2 linked regions of the Homo sapiens genome follow. The protein of the gene in region 1 interacts with the protein of each later gene in a pairwise test. Each region holds a gene or a part of one and is shown in the gene's direction. Other genes may lie near its edges.

Region 1 (7,514 bases):
TATAAATATTTATAAATTTATAAATTTATAATATATTTATAATATATAAATATATACAATATTTAATACTTTAAATAAAATATTTAATTTAAATATTAATATTAAATATTTAATTTAAATAAATATATAATTTAAATAATTTAAATATAATATTTAAAGATAAATAATATATAATTAATATATAATAAATTTATAAAATATAAATTATAAATAAATTTATAAATACAGACTTATAAATCTTTATAAATTATAAATACAGATTTATAAATTATCCTGTCTCAGGTATTTTGTTCTAGAAGCACAAATGGATTAGGATACTGCCTTTAGAAGTGTATATACTGTGCACAGAAAACCTCTGGAAAGTTATGCCCCAATGTTAATAGCAGTTATTTATGAGAATGGGATTTGAGATCTTTTTTTCTTTTTTCTTATTTGCATACACTGATTTTCCTAAAATAAACAAGTAAGCAAAAATAAACAAGTAAGCATGCATAACTTGTGTAACTCCTTTGTTTCTACACTGTCGCCCAGGCTGGAGTGCAGTGGCACGATCTCGGCTCACTGCCTCCTCTGCCTCCCAGGCTCAAGCCATCCTCCCACCCCAGCCTCCTGAGTAGCTAGGACTACAGGCACATGCCACTACACCCAACTAATATGCTTTTCCGTATTTTGTTTTTATAGATCTGGGGTTTTGCCATGTTTCCAAGGCTGATCTTGAACTCCTAGGCTCAAGCTATCTGCCTGCCTCAGCCTCCCAAAGTGCTGGGATTACAGGCATGAGCCACTGTGCCTGGCCAATTTTTAGTTTTATTTTTTAAACAGAAATTAACCTCAAAATCCCATAGACTTGAGTTTCATCCCGAATCAAAAAACCAAAGCCCAAATCAATCACAGTCCCCTGAACACCAACCACCTCGTGATGGAGCTGCAATCAGAGCAACTGCATTTTCTCTTCCTCAGTGAGATCTGTGAATACCTAAGACTTGAATGCATGGTGTGACTATAAAGCCACGCCTGAGTTTTCTTAAACACTCGAGAACTTATAAATTCAAGAAGTGCTGTCTTTCAAAGTCACTCTGCTTGTTTCAGCTTTGAATTTCCTCCATGAAATTGTCTTCAGAGCTGGTTTAGTAACGCCAAAGAAAATAAATTTCATTATAATTCAGAAGAAACACTTGCTTAAGTCACAGTCTTATTCCTCTTTTCATGCCCTCTTTCTTAGTGTTCTTTATTTTTATTGCTAATGTGTTTGACTAAGACCTCAAGGTCCTATTGTTGAAAACCTGGGGAAAAGAGTGTGGGAAGAGGTTCTGAGGCATAATAAAGCCTGGGGCTTGGGGAGGAGTACAGGGAGGGGGCTGGACAGTTTGAATGTGAGGCCCAAAAGTAAGGTGACCATATCATTTATCACCCCATTCTGGTATACTTTTGAGTGTGAAAGAGTCATGATTAATAATCATGTCAGGTCAACCAGGATGTATGATCACCCTATGTGAATAGGGAGAAAGTCAGGAAGGCACTCTAATATTTGTCCACTTGGGCTACCTTTAGGGCAAGAGATGCACCAGTATAACTGACCAAGGGCCATAAATGTGAATTGCCGGAAGTGGAGGATGGCTTCTATTTGAGGATGGAGCTATCATTACATTTGATCATTGGGACAGATCCATCTTTAATTTAGGGAAATCTTATTCAGTGAAAAAGTTACATTGAATTTCTTGAAAGTACTTCTAATAGGTTAAAAGATTTTGTGACTACTTACACATTCAGATACTCCTTGGAAATGAAAAGATTTTTAAGGCATTATAATACACCCACCCACCTACACATGTTCTTGTCACCTTCTAAGACTCCACCATAACCCTGGAATTCTCACATTTCCTTCTCCCCTCAAAAGACTGACAAAAGATTAAACAGCCAACAAAATCCCCCTAATTGCATGGTCATTCAGTCTAAGTTGTTCTCCCATTCACTGCCTTATAGTCTGTTCTTTTGTCTTGTGTTTTCCATCTGTGCAAAGCTGCAGTCTCATTGAGTTTGTTGGCTTTCCCACTTAAGTTGTTTATTGTACCAAATCTCATTCATTCTGGTGGAAATCAGCCTGTAACACAAGGGTCCATGCCATATATGTTAAATATTGCTTTGTTTTTTAAGCCACTGCTTATTGTAACACACATCTTACCAAATTCAAAAAGCAAGAAATCTACAAATCTTTCTTTCAATAGTTTCAAAGTTAACTTTATTACCCATAATACATACTTCTAAAAGAATGCCAGAATAGCTGAATTCATACATTTCACAAAAATTTATTGAGTTCCTCTTTTTTGTAGGTGCACTAGGAGAAATCACACAGTTCCCTACCTCAAGGCTCTCACAGCAAACAAATCTAAAAAAATGATTGAACTGTATACTTAACATTTGTGTACTTTAGGTAAATTATACCTCAATAAAAATATAAATAAAACCAATTTTGCTATATGCTATGGGCTTTTATAGGTCAAGAAAATTGATCTTTGGATTCTCATAACACATTTTTTTAAACAGGCTACTTATTTTAGATATTTATTTTTCCCCGAGTAGAATGGATTAATTACAAGTAATGACATTGGATCAGTCTTGCCTCTTTTAAGCATAGGCCTTTACTGTAATCTGCTTCCAAACAATCCCAATAAAATCGTTGATTTTAAGAGTCAAAAAGTTGCTCAGAGCCTTCTTCAGGGACTCTTAACTTTTTCTGCCACATGGATCCTTTGAAACTCTGATAAAAGCAAAGCTATAGACTTCCTCCCTGGAAATATACACATGCACCAAGATTTTGGGATAAACACACCACTGAAAACCATGCAGGGACCACTTAGGAACCCAAAGATCTCAAATTAAGATCCACTGAGATAACACAATCCTTTTCCTCCAGATGAAAGCAATAGACCCAGGGAGCGAAAACAGCCTGTTTAGGGGCTGAAGACAGAACCCAGCCTTCTGATACTGCTTACTCCACTGTCTCTTTAGATATCATTAAGTTCCCTTGGCCCCCAAAACTCCCATCTGTGGATCCCCTGAGTTTAGAAGAACTTCCACAGTACCTTGTAGCCTACCTTTTATAACTGGAGTCACGCCGGAAGCTGGTCAAAGTTTACCTTTTACTTATTGGAGAACAACAGGTACAAAGCAGAGTTTCTTATATTAAATTGGGACATTTTTCTCTTTTTTTCCTCAAAACCGAGAATGGAAGTGAAAATTAAAATCCAGCAATAAAGGGTTTTCTTTTTAGTTTAATGAAATCAACTCTAAAATTTGCTTTTATTTATATTCTGAAATTTAAAACTTTGTTCTTCGTTGATCTTTATAACATTGGAAAGATTGAACTTACACTTTGCTCTGTGAATCTTTCAATGGTTTGTGACCAAACCATAAATTTCAACCCGACCCAGGAAATTTCTGCGACTTGTGCCCACCCAGTTTTGCAGTTTGGAACAGAATTCTTGCTCCCAATCCAAATAGAGACTGAGAGAAATGAAAGAGGACCCAGAAAGCCTTTTCTTCTCTGTGAAAGGCCTGATCCTAAGTGGCGCAATCAATAAAGAAAAGGGTTCAAGGTGCAGCCTACAAATTTCTTAGAGTTTAATGTGTTCAGGTTGAGGTGGAGAAATTACATAAACCTGTGAATAGACATGGAATAGAAGCCATGTGTATATGCATTCTGTCCCTAAAGGTTTTGCTAGGTACTTACTAAGCTATTCCTTCTGTGCAATCATCTTTCGTTTTTCTACTTGTATGGATGAAAGCCTACCTTCACTGAACACTTCACCTTATGTGCCAGCTATTGTTCTAAACCCATTACATTATTTAATCTTCACGACAATTCTTTAAGGTAGTCTTATTACTATGCTCATTTTATAGATGAGCAAACAAGTTTTCAGGGGTCAAGAAATTTGAGCAAGTTCACATTAACTTGTAAATCACGAAATTGAGCATCAGATACAAGCATCTGGCTGCACTTCCTGAGTTTGTACGTCCTACTCTCATAAAATAGATACATTGAAGACTGAGAAAGAATACTGTTGGCCGATTCCTCAGGCAATAATTTTTTCGATATTGTATTGTTGTCTCAGAAACCTCCAGCCTCTCTCATTGATGGACGGTAGGAGGGGCACATGGAGTGGACCAGGAGTGGGCAGGAGTGGGGTGGGGGCGTGCTTTTAGAAGCGTTTCGGGGGAACGACAAGGCGCGGGTCGTAGAGGTCTACCCTCTCTGCAGTCCCAGCATGGCTCCTGGAGCTCTCTGGGCGGCCGCTGACCCCGACATCGCGGCGGCCCGCCCCCAGCGCCGCGCTGCCCAATCAGCGGCGCGGCCTGGTGCCCCGCCACTCCGCGCCGGCCATATAGGCCTCCTCCTGGCGCGCCTCCGCACCGCATTGGTGGACCGGCCCCCAGCCCGTCCATGGGCGTTGTGGCCGCCACCGCAGGTTCCGCCTCCCGTTCCCTCCGCCCTCAACGTACGTCGCACCGCCTCTCTGTAGCCGCCCGCGGAGCATCGCAGCCGGCCCGGGCCCCCGCCAGCCTCCCTCCTCGCGTCCCTCGGTGTCCTCCGCGGGCCGGCGCGATGCGGCTGGGCCCGAGGACCGCGGCGTTGGGGCTGCTGCTGCTGTGCGCCGCCGCGGCCGGCGCCGGCAAGGCCGAGGAGCTGCACTACCCGCTGGGCGAGCGCCGCAGCGACTACGACCGCGAGGCGCTGCTGGGCGTCCAGGTGAGGCGGCCAGGCCGGTGCTGGGAGGGCCGGGCCTCGCACCGCGGCTGCCGCGGGCTTTGTCCCGGGACAAAGGGGGGCGGCCGGGCGAGGCCTGGCAGGGGCGGCCTGACAATGGGGGCCGGGCGGCGCGGCACTCGCTCTCTGGGGGTCCTGGGGCCTGGAAAGCCTGAGGAGATAGCACGGCCCAAGAGCTGGATCCCTTCTACCCCTCAGATCATGGAGGGTGTGTAGGGGGTAGGGGCCTTGAAGTGCAGGTGCGGGTCACCCCGAAACCCTTTGGCAAGGGGGTCTTCTAGTAGCCCTGTTTTTCTCCACCATTTTGCCCCACTGATAGTAATGCTTGGCCCTCCTGTGTGTCGCTTCCCCCTAAAGGAAGATGTGGATGAATATGTTAAACTCGGCCACGAAGAGCAGCAAAAAAGACTGCAGGCGATCATAAAGAAAATCGACTTGGACTCAGATGGCTTTCTCACTGAAAGTAAGGACTGCCCTACACGACTAACAATGGAGACAAACACAAATATGTTAAGCAGCGGTGTCTGCTGAATGTATAGATTGCTAGTGTCCCAAGTTGGAAGTCCTGTGAGAAGGAGAAAAGGACATGGAGAATAGGCTTTATACTTACAAATCTTTAGACACTGAGAACCAAGTAAAACTCGGTGCTTTCTCCAGTTATATATAAACATCATTGACCCTGTACTCTATGTGGAAGTCACACCTTGAGACACCCTCTTTCTCACGTGACTTTTGTTAGTGTCAACAATATGATTTATTTTAGAGAAATATGCCCCAAAACTTTAAGGCAGTAAATGATTTATCGCTCTTTTGATATATGCTTCATTTAAATTTTAGGAATTTGCTTCTTTTTTTAAGCAAGTAGAAAAAGACCTGTTGCCTGTGAATTACGTTTATTATAACATTATACCAAAATGTTAGAGCTGGTAGGGGCCTTGGGATCATCTTGTCCACATCACTTTGTAGAGATGAAGAAATGAAGCACAGGGATAAGTGCCTTCTACAAATAAGTGGCAAAGCTGGACTAGAATCCAGGTATCCTGCTCTTAATTCAGGTTTTAATATCCTTCAGTTAAAAAAAAAAATCTGATGCTCTCAGGTAAATTCTCTAGTCAGAAATGAAATGCACAGACTATTAAAAGAATGTTCTAAATAAATTGCTGTGCAGTTGTCTCTCCCCATTGTTCAATTCAAATGATGTTCCCTGTCAGCGTTCCAAGTGGGTCCTCAGAAAAATTCAGGTTGTTATTGTGACTCTTAAGTTAGCTGTTTTTCTGTAACTCTCATTTAAATGCTGTTCACCATCAAGGAATTAAGTTGCTGGAGACAATTAAAAACTGGTAAATTTAAGATGTGCTGTCAATGACATATTCACATTGGAACCCTCTGGAAGATTAAGGGCTTTTTTCTTCCACTTAGTTAGACAATAATAACAAGACCTTTGGTCTCTGATTATCCAATCTAAGAATAAGTCAATCTTTGGTTATACTAGAGTAATCAAAGAACACAACACGTTGATTTGGAAGACTGCGTGGTACCTATCTGTCAAGACCTAGATATGTTCAAATATTTAATAGTAAGGTTTTAAGAAGTTTAAACTTAGAAAAGTTTTAGTCCAAATATTCATTATACAGATGAGAAGAAAAGCTTGAGATGGTAAACTACCCCCTGATGGCAAAGCTGAAGTGTGAACCCACATTTCTGATCCCTGTTCCATTCTGTTTTCTTCTATGCCATGGTGATCTCTTTAAATAAACTAGAAGAAAGATTCATGGTGCTTACGAAAGCCTTCATTCTACTTGAGGACCCTTAAGATAATTTTGGCAATTTGCTCTTTGAGGGCCAGGTCTGGAATCAGATGTTAAGAGGTAGCAAAACTCAGTAGGAGTTGGCTTTGAAGCCAGACAGGTTTGAATCTGGACTCTGCTATTTACTAGTTGTGAAGGCTTGGACTTTTCTGAACCTCAGTTTCCTCACCTGTATAATAGTGATGATTATAATTGCATTGTTTTGAAGATTAGAGGCAACATGTACAGAGGAACCTGATAAATGGTATACTCATGCTGTCCTCACAAATATTCGTGTTCGTCCCTCCCTTTGTTTCCTTTAACGTAGTTTAGTAAATATTTTTATGAATAGTTTTTTGTTTTTTTTTTTGAGGCAGAGTCTCGCTCTTGTCACCCATGTTGGCGTGCAGTAGTGTGATCTTGGCTCACTACAGCCTCTGCCACCCAGGTTCAAGTGATTCTTCTGTCTCAGCCTCCCAAGTAGCTGGGATTACAGGCACTGGCCACCATGCCCGGCTAATTTTTGTATTTTTAGTAGAGACGGGGTTTTACCCGAGACCAGGCTGGTCTCGAAATCCTGACCTTAGGTGATCCGCCTGCCTCAGCCTCCCAAAGTGCTGGGATTACAGGCGTGAGCCACTGAGCCCAGCCAAATAGATTTTTTAAAAGTTGATTGAAAAGTGAACATTTGAATTTTAGAAACTTTCCCATGCCTTCAGGTACCAAGTTAAGACAGATAGCTGTTGCAGGAAGGGCATAAATTGCTACCCATAACTTCGTTAAAATTTACTCCAGATGTTTTAACAACATATTTAAAGGTAATATACTGAAGCAGTATTCTCAGTCACTTGAATACCTTTTCAGAATTTAGGCCATATCTACTTAACCATCTATTATTTTCTTACTATAGTTTTAATTCAACTCACATAAAATTTATTTTAAAGGAAGACTTTATGTCACCT
Region 2 (7,027 bases), on another chromosome or scaffold:
GCTTCTTGTTTGAATGCCCTATTCTGAATACCAGTAATCAGTATAAACAGGGAATATTAAAAGGAATATTTTGAGGGAATGCTCAAAAACCAGTTTCAAACCTATGAGGATCAGATGGGCCAGCAGGGCTTCTTGACAGACCAGCATTGGGAGAGTTGTTTCACAAGAGAATATGTTGGCATGGTGTGAACACCAAGGGGAGGGACAAGAGGTCCCCAAAAGCCTCCTGGTCATGGAACATCTGGAGCTGGATTCTGAAAGATAGAGTATGTCAGCTGTGGAGGAAGATTCTAAGAACGCAATGGCAGAAGCTTGAGAATGAAGACTAGGTGGGTGGGCCCTGGATGGGAAGGACGAGGCGGCCTATGTTTCAACACCTCCCGTGACAGGAACTTCATTTCATTTCATTGTCTCTTGCCACCTACTCCCATGGCCCTTTTGATCTGACCTCATTCTCTTCTGGCTCCACCTGTTAGAGGATATAGGGGAGCAGACACCCTCATATGCTGCTGGTGGGAAATCTGAATTGCTTTTTTTTTTTTTTTTTTTTTTTTTTTTTGAGATGGAGTGCAGTGGTGCAATCTCGGCTTACTGCAACCTCCACCCCCTGGGTTCAAGCGATTCTCCTGCCTCAGCCTCCCGAGTAGCTGGGACTACAGGTGTGCGCCACCACACCCAGCTAATTTTTGTATTTTTAGTAGAGATGGGGTTTCACCATGTTGGCCAGATGGTTTCGATATCTTGACCTCGTGATCTGCCTACCTCGGCCTCCCAAAGTGCTGGGATTACAGGCGTGAGCCACCATGCCAGGCCCTAAATTGCTTTAATTCATCGAAAAGTAACTGGGGGCTAGGCACAGTGGCTCATGCCTGTAATCCCAGCATTTTGGGAGGCCGAGGAGGGAGGATCCCTTGATCTCAGGAATTTGAGACCAGCCTCAGCAACATAAGGGAGGCCGTGTGTCTACAAAAAGTAAAAAAAAAATTAGGTGGGCATAGTGGTGCACTCCTGTGGGCCCAGCTACTCTGGAGGCTCAGGTGGGAGGACCACTTGAGCCCAGGAGGGCGAGGCTGCCATGAGCTGTGATGGCACCACTGCACATCAGCCTGAGCAACACAGCAAAACCGTGTCTCAAAAAATTAAAAAAGCAGCTAGGTACATATCTTTACAAGTTTAAAATACGCTTAGCCTTTGACCAGCAACTCTGCTATTAGCAATCTATGCCATAGAAGTGTTTTATTTGTTTTGTTTATGTTTGTTTGAGGCAGGGTCTGTGCTGCTTACATTACAGTATTGTTTAATTCCTGACCCCTGGTGGTTCACAGGTGAAGGTTGTCATCCTGGGACAGGATCCATATCATGGACCTAATCAAGCTCACGGGCTCTGCTTTAGTGTTCAAAGGCCTGTTCCGCCTCCGCCCAGGTACAGTTGCTTTACAGGTGACTGCAGTCCAGACATGATTCCTTTCAGATGTGTACTTAGCTTATTACAAGTGGGACTATCTGGGGCACTGTTCACTAGCCTTGGAGGAGGATTTCTCGGCCTCAGCACCATTGACATTTGGGGCTGAGTCATTCTTTGTTGTGGAGGAGGAGAGGAGTCCTGTGCTATTGCAGGATCTTGTGCCACATCCCTGGCCTCTACCACTGGAAACCAGGAGCAACCCCCAGCTCGTGATAATGAAAAATGTGCAGACATTGCCAAAAGTCCCTTGGGGGCGTAAAATCACCCCTGGTTAAGAACCACTGCTTTGGGCCGGGCGCGGTGACTCACGCCTGTAATCCCAGCACTTTGGGAGGCTGAGGCAGGAGAATCGCTGGATCCCGGGAGGCGGAGGTGGCAGTGAGCCGAGATCCTGCTACTGCACTCTAGCCTGGGTGACACAGCAAGACTGGAAAAAAAAAAAAAAGAACCACTGCTTTTGGAGGATTTGGTGTATGATATACATAAATATGCTAAGGACAGAAAACTGTCCCTGAGCAACAGTGGGGGTCTGGGTTGTAACTGCTGGGTTGATTTACTTAGGTTTTCCAGAGTGCTGTTAAATCCAAGTACAGACTAAAGTAAAGGTCTTTGGCAGAGTCACCTGTTAGAAGGAGGACTGGCAGTGTTGATCTCATTAATCGGCGCCATATGTGCCAGTGTCCCTTCCAAGGGCTGGCTGTAACTTCTAACCTTTTCACATATGTCTTAGACGTTACTGAGCTTTCAAAATTATGCTTAAGATTCTGTTTTTTGTTTTTCTTGTGGCTTGCTTTCAGTTTGGAGAACATTTATAAAGAGTTGTCTACAGACATAGAGGATTTTGTTCATCCTGGCCATGGAGATTTATCTGGGTGGGCCAAGCAAGGTAAGCCAGCGACTGCTAGATTTTTTTTTTTTTTTTTTTTTTGAGACCGAGTCTCACTCTGTTGCCCAGGCTAGAGTGCAGTGGTGCAATCTCAGCTTACTGCAACCTCTGCCTCCCAGGTTCAGGCGATTCTCATGCCTCAGCCTCCTGAGTAGCTGGGACCACAGGCATGAGCCACCATAGCTGGCTAATTTTTTAATGTATTTTTAGTAGAGACAGGGTTTCACCATGTTGGCCAGGCTGGTCTCGAACTCCTGACCTCAGGTGATCCGCCCGACTCGGCTTCCCAAAGTGCTGGGATTACAGGCATAAGCCACCACGCCCAGCCCCGACTCCATTGTTGATGGTAGTGGCTGCTGCCATTATGCCGGCTGCAGCAGGGAAGCACAGCTTGCTACACTGGATCCCATCAAGCATTGGTTTCATCATGGATTTAGCTCCTGTTGCTGGGTATTGGGCTGATTTGCCTGAGCCTACATTTAACCTGTTTCTCTCATGTGTATAGGTGTTCTCCTTCTCAACGCTGTCCTCACGGTTCGTGCCCATCAAGCCAACTCTCATAAGGAGCGAGGCTGGGAGCAGTTCACTGATGCAGTTGTGTCCTGGCTAAATCAGAACTCGAATGGCCTTGTTTTCTTGCTCTGGGGCTCTTATGCTCAGAAGAAGGGCAGTGCCATTGATAGGGTATGTTTTGTTTTCTTTCTTTTTTTTCTTTTTTTTTTAACACTATAAAAACAATGTAAAGAATTCTAGGAGTCCCTGCTGTGTTTGGTCCTGGAAAATCCATGTTATAAAATAACTTTTATTTTCCCTTAGGCCTGTTATAAGGGTTTCCCATTGAAAACTGAGAAGAATTTGGACAAATTATAGGGGTGATGAGTTGTGTATGAGGAAAGCAAAGCAACTGGCCAACTTGTGACTGAATGCAGTTGGTGCTGTAGGCATGAACTTGGTGTCTACAAGATACAAGTCCCTGGGTACCATTCACTTAACAAGTGATGGATGAGGCATGTTTCTGGCTTCCAAGAAATTTGGGAACATATAGAAAACACAAAGAATTCCACTCAATCACAAATTTAACTTGCCCATGAAAATACTATCAGTGATCATTATTGTTTTGTTTCTGGGTTTTTTGTTTTTTGATGGAGTCTCGCTCTGTTGCCCAGGCTGTAGTGCAGTGGTATGATTTTGGCTCACTGCAACCTCCGCCTGCTGGGTTTAAGTGATTCTGCCTCAGCCTCCCGAGTAGCTGGGACTACAGGCGCCCGCCACCACACCCGGCTGATTTTTTTTTATTTTTTAGTAGAGACAGGGTTTCACCATGTTGGCCAGGCTGGTTTTGAACTCCTGACCTCAAGCGATCTGTCCTCCTCAACCTCCAAAGTGCTAGGATTACAGGCATGAGCCACCACACCCGGCCTATCGGTGATCATTATTAACCCCAAGGTCTAATTGCAGATACCCAACACGACCAAACCAGTGGCTCCCCTCCCTACATCTTCCCCCTATCTGCTACCTCCCTCTTTCCCTTCACTCACTGAAGCACTTCTACACCTGGTTGTGGAAATCAGAGACCTAAAAGTCATCCTTGAATCCTCCATCCCATCAGTAAATCCCATCAACTCTGCCTCCCAAAACACCCCAGTCTACTGCTTCTCATTCGCCACTGCTGCCCTTCAGGCATGAGTCACCATCATCTTTCTCCAGGAGAACCGTGATGGACTAGAGATGGAGGCTTGATGGAGAGCCGCAGAGTGGAGGAGGGAGAGATAGGGGGTGGGAAGGAGACGAGCCAGGGGTGTGTTCATCCCTGGCAAATGGGAGAGACATTGGGTGGGGGAGAAATTATAGAGTAAATGCTTCAATGATCGAAGGCAAGGGCTTAGCAGAGGTAACCTGACAATAGTTTTTGGTGTATCAGCAGGAGGTAACGGGGGTATCAGAAATGTGCACGTATATTTAACCCCTACCTTGTGTGGGTACTAGGTTGAGCACTTTTGTTTTTTGAGATGGAGTCTTTCTGTCACCCAGGCTGGAGTGCAGTGGCATGATCTCGGCTCACTGCAACTTCGCCTCCTGGGTTCAAGCACTTCTCCTGCCTCAGCCTCCTGAGTAGCTAGGATTACAGTTGCCTGCCACCACACCCAGCTAATATTTTTTATTTTTAGTAGAGACTGGGTTTCACCATGTTGACAAGGCTGGTCTTGAACTCCTGACCTCAAGCGATCCTCCCATCTTGGTCTCCCAAAGTGCTAGGATTACAGATGTAAGCCACCGCACCCGACCAGGTTGAGTACTTTGCATGCAGAATCTTACTTAACTCTCAGAAAGGCTTTGAGGTAGGCATACACTTGTATGAGTGACCTAAGATCTGACTGGTATGAACTGCTAAGATGTGATCATCTAGGTATGTAAGAAGTGTGCGTGAGAGTAATTGCTAATCTCTATCCCTTAGGGAGGTTTACGGCCAGTGTTGCTCTTCCGCAGTATATTGGTAATCTTTAATCATGGTTTGGTCTGAAAGTAAACAGTTGTTAAAGTAGCTTGGTCATTAAAGCCAAATTGCATATCTCCAGCCCAGTGTCTCTTCTGATCTATAGAGTGCCTTGTTACTACTGCCCCATGAACATGCCAAATTCAACATTTTCCAAACGAAGTTTCTCCTTTTCTCATCCATGCTTCACTAAACTTCCTCCTCTGCACTCCCTAGCAGCAAAAAGCACCATCATCTGCCCAGTTGTCCAGCCAGATCTATTACTGACACCTGCCTACCTCTCTTTCTCCCCTCTTCTGTCCTTTTTTTCCACCTTCCCAGTCAGTCAGTCATTCATATCTGTGTTCTTTCTTCCCCCTCCAAATCTACCCCTGCCTGACCACCTTTGCCTTCATTCAGGCCCTCACCTGATCTTGCCTGGAGGGTTCTGATGCTTTCTCCCTGGAAGGCCTTGCCTTAGGCTGAAGATCTGATTTCAGGGGGGTAGAGGGGTGGCCCCCAATCGGCCTCCCAGACTTAACTCTATCCCTCTTTGCACTCCGATCCCTAGGCTGACCCATTCCCCTTTACTTTTTCACGGTGCCCCACTTCCCTGCCTTTGCATATCCTGCTTTCTCTGCCTACAGTGTAGAGGTCATTTTCTTCTGGGATTCTTTAGAGCTCTGCAGGGCTGACATTTACAGGGGCCTGTGCTGCTTGCGTGTGTGTTCAGCATTTGGTGTGCATGACTTCTTATCACACTCAGCCCCTGTGATCCTCATTTGATTGGTCACAGTAACTTCATAAGCTGGGCGGTATTGTTATTCCCAGTCTACAGATGAAAACTGAAGCAGCTTAGAGTTGCAGCAACTTCTCTGTGGTACAGCTACTGAGGGTAGAGGTAGGCCTCGACCCCGGGCAGTCTGGCTCCAGGCTCTGTACTCTTAACCACACTGGATTGCCTGGCTTTAGTCCTCACCCCTCATCGCCCCTCCTGGACTGAGCCCCTTGAAGGCAAGAGTGTTTTGAGAAACAGTGATTTGTTCGTTAGTTTTTATATACAGAAAAGAAGAGGAAAACAAAAATGGTCTATATCTCCCTGTTAAAATAACTATAGTTGATATTTTAAAAAAATCAAAGTAGTCATTTGCCACATAATGATGTTTCAGTCATAAACTGTATATATGACGATGGTCCCATAAGATTATAATATTCTGGCCGGGTGTGGTGGCTCATACCTGTTATCCCAGCACTTTGGGTGGCCGAGGCGAGTGGATTGTCTGAGCTCAGGAGTTTGAGACCAGCCTGGGCAACATAGTGAAACCCTGTCTCTACTAAAATACAAAAAATTAGCCAGGTGTGGCGGCGTGTGCCTGTAGTCCCAGCTACTTGGGAGGCAGAGGTTGCAGTTAGCTGAGATCATGCCACTGCACTCCAGCCTGGCAACAGAGTGAGACTCTATCTCAAAAAAAAAACATATATATATATACACATATATATATACGTATATATATATGTGTATATATATATATATAAAAAATATTTTTACTGCATCTTTTCTATGTTTAGATACACAAATGCCTACCATTGTGTCACAGTTGCCTATAGTATTTAGTACAGTAACATGCTACACAGGTTTGTAGACCAGGAGCAATAAGCTACACTATATAGCCTAGGTGTGTAGTGGTAGGTTATCCCATTTGGGTTTGTGTAAAGATGCCCTGTGGTGTACGGATAGCAGTGAAATTGCCTAACAACACACTTCTCAGAATGCATCCCTGTCATTAGGTGATGTATGACTATTGCTTTTTTTCTTTTGAAACAGGGTCTAGCTCTGTCACCCAGGCTGGAATGCACTGGCTTGATCTCAACTCACTGCGGCCTCAACCTCCCAGGCTCAAGCAATCCTCCCACCTTAGTCACCTGAGTAGCAGGGACCACAGGCGTGCGCCACCACACCTGGCTAATTTTTGTATTTTTTTTTGTGGAGACAGGGTTTCACCACGTTGCCCAGGCTGGCTCTTGAACTCCTGGACTTAAACGATCCTCCTGCCTCGGCCTCCCAAAGTGCTGGGATTACAGGCGTGAGCTACCACACCTGGCCACTGACTATTCCTCTTTTTTTTTTTTTTTTTTTTTTTTCTGAGACAGTTTCACTCTTGTTGCCCAGGCTGGAGTGCAATGGCGTGATCTCAGTTCACTG

What was found. Proteins that work in one complex are often made in the same cells at the same time.
Region 2: the proteins of RCN2 (region 1) and UNG interact in binary tests that used the Homo sapiens proteins (3 or more experiments, as listed by UniProt).

Annotation. Positions count from the first base shown.
Region 1 is NC_000015.10:76,927,239-76,934,752, forward strand, and holds the start of RCN2 (reticulocalbin-2 isoform a precursor), read left to right. Parts: upstream 1-4,510; 5' UTR 4,511-4,603; coding exon 4,604-4,747; intron 4,748-5,122; coding exon 5,123-5,228; intron 5,229-7,514.
Region 2 is NC_000012.12:109,100,577-109,107,603, forward strand, and holds part of UNG (uracil-DNA glycosylase), read left to right. Parts: intron 1-1,325; coding exon 1,326-1,423; intron 1,424-2,262; coding exon 2,263-2,351; intron 2,352-2,856; coding exon 2,857-3,035; intron 3,036-7,027. UniProt on the Homo sapiens protein: Uracil-DNA glycosylase that hydrolyzes the N-glycosidic bond between uracil and deoxyribose in single- and double-stranded DNA (ssDNA and dsDNA) to release a free uracil residue and form an abasic (apurinic/apyrimidinic; AP) site.